Linked DNA regions of Homo sapiens. The protein of the gene in region 1 purifies or fractionates together with the protein of each later gene. This does not show direct contact. Each region holds a gene or a part of one and is shown on either strand. Other genes may lie near its edges.

Evidence for each region. Proteins that work in one complex are often made in the same cells at the same time.
Region 2: the proteins of PDGFRA (region 1) and CBR4 purify together in Homo sapiens (affinity purification with mass spectrometry; one large-scale study listed by BioGRID and IntAct). This does not show direct contact.

Annotation. Positions count from the first base shown.
Region 1 is NC_000004.12:54,274,293-54,277,792, reverse strand, and holds part of PDGFRA (platelet-derived growth factor receptor alpha isoform 1 precursor), read right to left. Parts: intron 3,263-3,500; coding exon 3,168-3,262; intron 2,953-3,167; coding exon 2,820-2,952; intron 406-2,819; coding exon 301-405; intron 1-300. UniProt on the Homo sapiens protein: Tyrosine-protein kinase that acts as a cell-surface receptor for PDGFA, PDGFB and PDGFC and plays an essential role in the regulation of embryonic development, cell proliferation, survival and chemotaxis.
Region 2 is NC_000004.12:169,007,456-169,011,606, forward strand, and holds the start of CBR4 (3-oxoacyl-[acyl-carrier-protein] reductase), read right to left. Parts: upstream 2,801-4,151; 5' UTR 2,635-2,800; coding exon 2,493-2,634; intron 302-2,492; coding exon 181-301; intron 1-180. UniProt on the Homo sapiens protein: Component of the heterotetramer complex KAR (3-ketoacyl-[acyl carrier protein] reductase or 3-ketoacyl-[ACP] reductase) that forms part of the mitochondrial fatty acid synthase (mtFAS).

The DNA of each region.
Region 1 (3,500 bases):
ATTTACCAGAAGTCTAAAAGAAGCAGATAGCTACTTGGCCTCAGTGCTAATAACTAATTCCTGGTCTTTCTAGTAAAAAGAAGTCACTGGAAATAACAAGCTCTTAATTTTCCAACATACAGGCAGCAAGAGCAATCTAAATAAACCTAATCTAAATACACATAAAACCTGGAGTCAAAATAATCAGGACCTAGTCCTAAATGTCTTATTTACTAGCTGCATGATTTTGAGAAATTCCCTTAATATCCCCATGCTCAAAAAATCCCCGTGCTCAAAAAATCCCCAGGAAGGAGCACTTACGTTTTAGCATCTTCACTGCAACTTTCATGACAGGTTGGGACCGGCTTAATCCATAGGCTGTTCCTTCAACCACCTTCCCAAACGCTCCAGACCCCAAGACCCGACCTGTGGGCAGGCAGAATCATTAACACCCAAAAACTCCAGACGCCTCCTCAGCTTTCTGCACCGTAGCCAGCTCTCTGCGGGCGGACAGCTGGGCGAGTGTCTTTCCTGTTTGGAGTAATCATAATGACTCCTCCAAGTCATCGTGTCAAAAAAGGAATTGAGCCCACAGGGAAGGAAATTAGCATAATTGCTTTTGTCGAATAACACTTGCAAGGGAAAGAAAACACAGACGGGAGAAAGGAGGGTGCAGCCCTCCCTGGTGTGAGCGCGCTGTCTACCAGCTCCGTGCTGGGCCAGCCCCTGGGATCCTCTTGCCTTCGGGGCTCTCACCCACACCTCCTGGCTCTCTCCCCTTCTGTTTTCCATATGCAAACAGGGGCATCTTTTGTCTTAGTAAATTACTAGCCACTGGAAATACTTCAGTATTCAAAATATCACTGATTCTAAGGAGTGACTAAATAAAAACTTCAGGCTGGGCTCACTGCTCCCTATTTGTTAGGAAAGCCACTCTACCAAGAGCTAAACATGCCCGAGAGCACAGCAATTAGCTTCATGTTGGGAGGAGACATACGTAAAGACACTGAAGCTGTTGTCCCACCCTGAAAGAGCTCACCCTGAGAGAAACATTTCCCGGGGTGTCAGTCTCACCACGGATAGCCAAGCCAGGAAAAGACTTGGCTCATAAAAGACACTAACAGCCAACACTGCCTCTTACTGCACGTCTGTGTTACTGAAAATCGTACCTGGAAAGGTATTGCTTCACCAGCAATGCCTCTTGGTATAATGGGAATTATGCCCTTTTCCCCATATTTTACTACTTTTTAACTCCCTAAGCTCCTCATCCCTTGTTGGGAAATAGGCAGGAAAATAAAGAAAGCTTAGATATAAATATTTGAAATTGGGGGGCAGCTCTTATAACCGCCCCATGGATTCTCCTTGTCCGCTGCCTAGACAGAGCCGATTTACCAAGACAGGGGAATTGCAATAGAAAAAGGGTTTAATTCACACAGAGCCAGCTGTACGGGAGACCTATTCTACTATTACTACTATTACTCGAATCAGTGTCTCTGAAACTGGGGGAATTTCTACTATTCTGCTATTACTCAAATCAGTGTCTCTGAAACTGGGGGAATGGGGTTTTTAAGGATGATTTGGTGGGTAGGGGGTGAAAAGGGGAGTGCTGATTGGTTGGGTCAAAGATGAAATTATAGGGAGCTGATGCTGTCCTCTTGCACTGAGTCAGTTCCTAGGTAGGGGCCCCAAGATCAGATGAGCCAGTTTATTGACCTGGGTGGTGTCAGCTGGTGCATCGAAATACAGGGTCTCCAAAATATCTCAAGCACTGACCTCAGGTTTTACAACAGTGACCCCTAAACCATACTTTCTAATCTTGTAGCTAATTCGTTAGTCCCGCAAAGGCAGTCTAGTTCCCAGGGAAAAAGAGGGTTTGTTTTGGCAAAGGGCTATTATTGTCTTTTTTTCAAAGTCAAACTATAAACTAAGTTCCTCTCAAAGTTAGTTCGGCCTATGCCCAGGAAGGAACAAGGACAACTTGGAGGCTAAAGCAAAATGGAGTTGGTTAGGTCATATCTCATTCACTGTCATAATTTCCTCAGTTACAATTTTTGCAAAGGTGATTTCACTCTGGTGCCTTGCTTGATTTCAGTTTACCTAACTCTCTAAGAAGACTTAAACTCTTCTGTATTTTGCAATGAGACCGGTGGATAATTAAAACCTGCATTTGGCATTCTTTAACATATATACTGTTAGATCATTCATCATAACACAACCTCTACCTCTACTTTCATTTGCCTTTGTCTTGCTTTCATTCATTAGGAATGTGATTTAAAAAAGAAATACTCCCTTGGACTAAAGCTTCATATACTTGGTCTCAGCCCAGGATTGAAATACTTGAAATGCTTGTGATAAGTTGGCTTGCTTATTTTTACATATTTTGCCTCAAAATGTACCTATATTTTTATATTCCATATTCCAAATATGTAAAAAGGAGTATCTAATGCATCTTCAGAATGTACTGAATCAAAATACATTTTGTGGTTGTCCTCATTCATTTCTCATCTGCTCATTTTTAGTCACAGAAATTCATTTTCAATTTGTGTCATTTCTAAAGAAAAGCAATTTTGGTGGGTATCTTTGCCAGCCCTCTTCATATTCTCTTCTCCCTTTGTAAAATTTTCCTTAACTATAATTTGTTATGGAAAGAGATTTAAAAAAATCATTGCAATGATCCAATTAACTTACTGTCAAGACAGAAATGTATTTCTGAAAGCAAATTTCCATTGCCTAGTTCTTACTAAGCACAAGCTCAGATCTCTATTCTGCCAAGGCCTATAAATTGTAAAGTTGTGTGCAAGGGAAAAGGGAGTCTTGGGAGGTTACCCCATGGAACTTACCAAGCACTAGTCCATCTCTTGGAAACTCCCATCTTGAGTCATAAGGCAGCTGCATCGGGTCCACATAAATATATTCATGTCCATCTGGGCTGATTGATTCAATGACCCTCCAGCGAATTTCATACCTCGGTTTCTATAAATGACCAGGACAGGTAACTGGTGAATTACCAAAGTCCCAGTGCACCAGAGCTTCACTGAAGCAGCACAGTGACTGGACACAGTAGAGTCCAACAACGTTCACTCCACATGTAATTGCTGAGCTCCTTCTCTGTGCCAAGCACTGAACTAGGTTGCTATGCTTGTTCTCATTGGCTTCAAAGATCTTTAGTTTTATGAGAAAATATCTACCTGTTTCCAAATGACAACCAGGACAATAAGTGAGATGATCACAATCACCAACAGCACCAGGACTGCAGCAGCCACCGTGAGTTCAGAACGCAGGGCTACGTGACAAGAGAGAGAGGCACAATGAAAAGTTTCCTGGCAGACATGCACAGGGGCAGCAAGGTAGTGTGGCTGTGTCTGAGCCAGGAATCTCTCACTGCTGGTGGGGAAGTGTGAGGGCTGCCTGGTTCATTTTAGGGATAGGCAGTACCATCTCTCAAACCATCTACACCCAGGAAACTACATCAACTCTTTCCTTATACAAGAAGGGGACAAAATTCAATCAGGAGAACTCAG
Region 2 (4,151 bases), about 110 Mb from region 1:
ATTTATTATATGTTGTATCTCAATATAAAGGAAAATAATTTATGGATTGACAAGTTTTAAAATAGTTTTTTCTCCCAGTTAGAAGCAAAATAAACATATTAACTTATACCAATCAAAGACATATTAGGAATAAAAGTTTTAAATATATATATAAGAAACTTATTTAAATCTGTGACCAACCTGTTAATACCAGCTGCATTTACCAAGAAATTTACTCGACCTAAATGTTTCTCCAGCTCTTCAAATGTATTTTGAACATCATGTTCTTTAGCAACATCACAGCTAAATGCCAAATGATCTCCTACACAACAAAGTTAAATAAGAATTACTTATAACTCAAATTTTAAATTTACTCAATACACATTTGTTAAGCATCTATCTAAGATGGCAGGCCTGTGCTAATCTAGAACCTAAAGATTAAAAAAGTAATGTCATGAGGCCTGGCTTTCATAGAGTTGGTCTAATGAAACTGGGATGCGGGAACAAAGAGGAAATAAAGTACTACTACAGAAAGTTAATTTTAAAATTTTCTTTTTAATCAACAAAGGGGGGAGGGCTTTTTCAAGTTATAAAGGCTCTGTAAGATTCATCTAATATTTATAGCTTTAACACTGAATTCATGCTACCCAATTCGACAGTCTTCTGGGTTTTATATTCCTTTTTTGAAATTTATGTCTAATTCTGTCAGGTTTTTGTTGAATTAGTTTCTTTGGCCCTGAACGGGAACTCTTGGGTTTCTTCTTTTTAAGTGCTACGGATGCACTATGGCACATATATTATAACGACTATTATTCAAACCTGACCATCAGGAGAGATGAGACAACACAGGAAGCTATAAAAATGCTAAAACTACAAACCACGGGGGGAAAAAAACACTTTTTACTAAAAGCAACTGTTACTTACCACTTTTAAAAAATGGTTAAATGCCAAAAAAAAACTACACTTCAAAGGAAAACAAAGCATTCCCTATGTAATCTACCATTTTAATACTCTAAAATGTAGGATTGTTTTTAAAAGCTAAAACAATTCTTTATTTTCTGTCTGACCTTGATAAATATGCTTACACCAACACTACCCCATCAAGCCTTTGGAAACAGTAAGCGACCCGGGGAATTATACTTTCTAGATGAAAACCAATCACTCATGGAACACGATTCAAAGGAATGCAGGGCCCAAAAGCATCCTGTGTCTCTCTTACTCTTGGTTTTCACCCGAAGACTTGTGTCCACAACCACCTTTGAAAGCCCAACTAATGGCTTCAATCCAGTCCAGCAAACACTGATGGCTTGGGGTGACACAGTAAGGGTCACCACTCTTCCCCTCCTTTGTTAGAATGGTAAGGAATATGAGCTTCAAGAAGCATTCACTGACACTCTCCCTGACCTATAACTTACAGAATCTTTTTTCTTTTAGAGAGCCCAATAGTCTCCCAACCAGCACTGAACAGGTGATACCAAACCGATCAATAATGTTAACTTAAAAATGAACAGCCACACCTGGCGTCTATAGTCCCAGGTCCTTGGGAGACTGAGGCGAGAAGATCTCTAGAGCCAGTAAATCAGGAGTTGGGGTCCAGCACGGGCAACATAATGGGAAGCCCTCTCAAAAAAAAAAAAAAAAAACCAGATACACAAAAACAGTAAGAGCCACAAGACGCACCCCTAGGCCTCTATTCTCCCCATGCCTCCCTGATAGTAAATGAAGTATAATTTTGTCCATTCTGGTGATTAAACAAATAGCATCTTCGGATCTAACGTCCTATTTCTCCCTAAACTCAATGAAGAGTTATATTCACAAAATGACTAATCCATTCATAATAAGCCGGAAATAAAAAACCCTGAAGTTTAAATGCAATAAAAAAGAATTTGGCAGAACAAAGTTCAATTGTCCATTTGCAAAACTCACCAAAACAATTTAATAACATTAAAGCAAACCAGGTATATCTCAAAACTGGCTGGTACTCAAAAGGGTTTCTCTATCAAACACTGCTTTGTGCATTCGCGCAGGGCCAAGGCACGGCCCTTGGGCAAAACTGAAGGGAGCCGTTGGTACCTGCACTCCCACCTTTCCTGCCTGAACTCCTTTCGACCCAGCCCTGTCTCCGGGGGCCGAGAACTCGCCCTTTTCCCTACATTAAAAGTAAACTGTTACGTGGCTCTCTCCCACAACAGGGAAGCTCCTCAGCGTTAGCACTAGCCGCAGGGCGGAGGGTGCGTATAGCGGGGCCTCAAAAGACTACGAGGTCTCAAAGAACACCCCAAGTGTTCAGCCCTCGGCGGCAAGCTGCGTGGCCGGCATTCTGCGAGGCATAGGGAGATCGCGGGTTTCTGCACGAGACGCATTCTACCCTTGGAACGGGAGAGCGCCTGCACGCGGCTACATCGAGTAACCCTAGAGCCCTAAAGGCCAGACCCGCTCTTTTTACAAAGGAGATTTTCTTTAGGCGCCTGGACCGCGGCCATACAACTGGACAACTCCAGTTTGGTACCTACCGCCGAGGTCACCGGCGGCGGCTTTGGCCCCTTCCAGGTTTCTGGCAATGACCGCCAGTCGGTAGCCTTTCCGGGCCATTAACTGGGCCACAGCTCTGCCAATGCCTCGGGAGCCTCCAAAAACAGCACACACTTTGTCCATCTCGGAGTCACAAACTCGGAGGAAAGAGGGTAGGGAGTGGGAGCCCCTCTCCAGGTTCCCTCAGGCTTTTAAACAACCGCGGTTCCAAAAAAAAAAAAAAGAAAAAAAAAGGCAAACCGCAAAAAAAAATAACGCCGCTCGACACCTCCTGCAGCCGCACAATAGTAATGCAAGACGCCGTGAAAAGGAGGAAGAGCTCGACGTCGCCGCGTCGACGTCATCACGCACGGACTCTTCCGCGCCACACCTAACAAATACGCCGACGAGAGCTCCCCGCCGGCGGAAGAATGGCCTGGAGAGGGCCTCGATGCTTGCTGGGACCTGTAGTCTTGACGCATGAGAGCAACTGGCGCAGGCGCGCTGCTCGGTGGGGAATGTACTTGTGGCACTGAGGGGGATCCTCTGTCCCCGCTGGGTCATATCAGTCGGGATTCGAGCCCCGGTGACCAATCGACCCGGTTTGTTCGGAACTGACAGGGTTGTCAAGACGCTGGGCTTTCCCTGGCAAACCAAGACGACCTGATCACGTAGTTAGAACCCAGAGAAAGCATTACTGGGCGTGAGCCGGTCGGGGCTCCGGTATTTGCCCTTCGCCCAGGTGTTGTTTTGGCTACAGACTTGATGTCCTACCTGTTGAAGAAGTCCCCAAGAATCGCACCCACACCAAAACCTACCCTACCTGTTCCTCCCCCAGGTTGCTGTAGAAATGGACCTCTACCCGCCCAGATGTTACCATTCATCGCGAAGGGTGTCGTGAAGATGAATGCCCTGTCGAACATCATCCAGCAGGAGGTCAAGGAATTTTAACTGAATGATTGAATAGTCTTGCAAGATCTATGAAACAAGCTTCGGCTGCTGTAGAGAAACAAAAATGGGTTCCTGCAATTCTAAATAAGATGTACTGGGTGCTCTGAGAGTTAATAAGCTAAAAAATTCAATGTTTGTTACAATTATAGTGTAAACAGAAAGCATTTCTGATACAATATTATTTTACTAGATTCAGAAAAGTATGAGCCATGGTCCCTACCACTAAAAAAACTACAACCCAGAACTACAGGACTAATACACATGAAACACTAGGAGGTATCCAAAATCATACTTAGTAAAATGCAAAATTATATTAACACAAGAGCTCCGAGAAAATGGAGATCAGTGAAGAATGAAGGGGTGCATGGAAAAGCTGGATTTGAGGGCTGGATGAGGTTTGAAAAAAGGAAAACAAGAGCAAAAAGTCTATAAATAAGCAAGTTGAGCATTAATTTAAATTTGTTATTCCTATTCCATTTAGATCCAAAAAAAGATTTGAAATGGTTTGCAAAAATACATGAGTATTTGAATTTAAAAGGCAAAGAGGACCACTGCCCCTTCTCCCACAAGGCCAGAACAATAAATTAGGTCAGTGGAAAAAATACGAATAAAGTCATGCTATAAGAATCTATTTAGTATTAAAGAAGAGATTCATAAACTTAGAGTTTCCTGCCAGCGAAAGCAACAAAGGAAATATAATTACAAGTGGT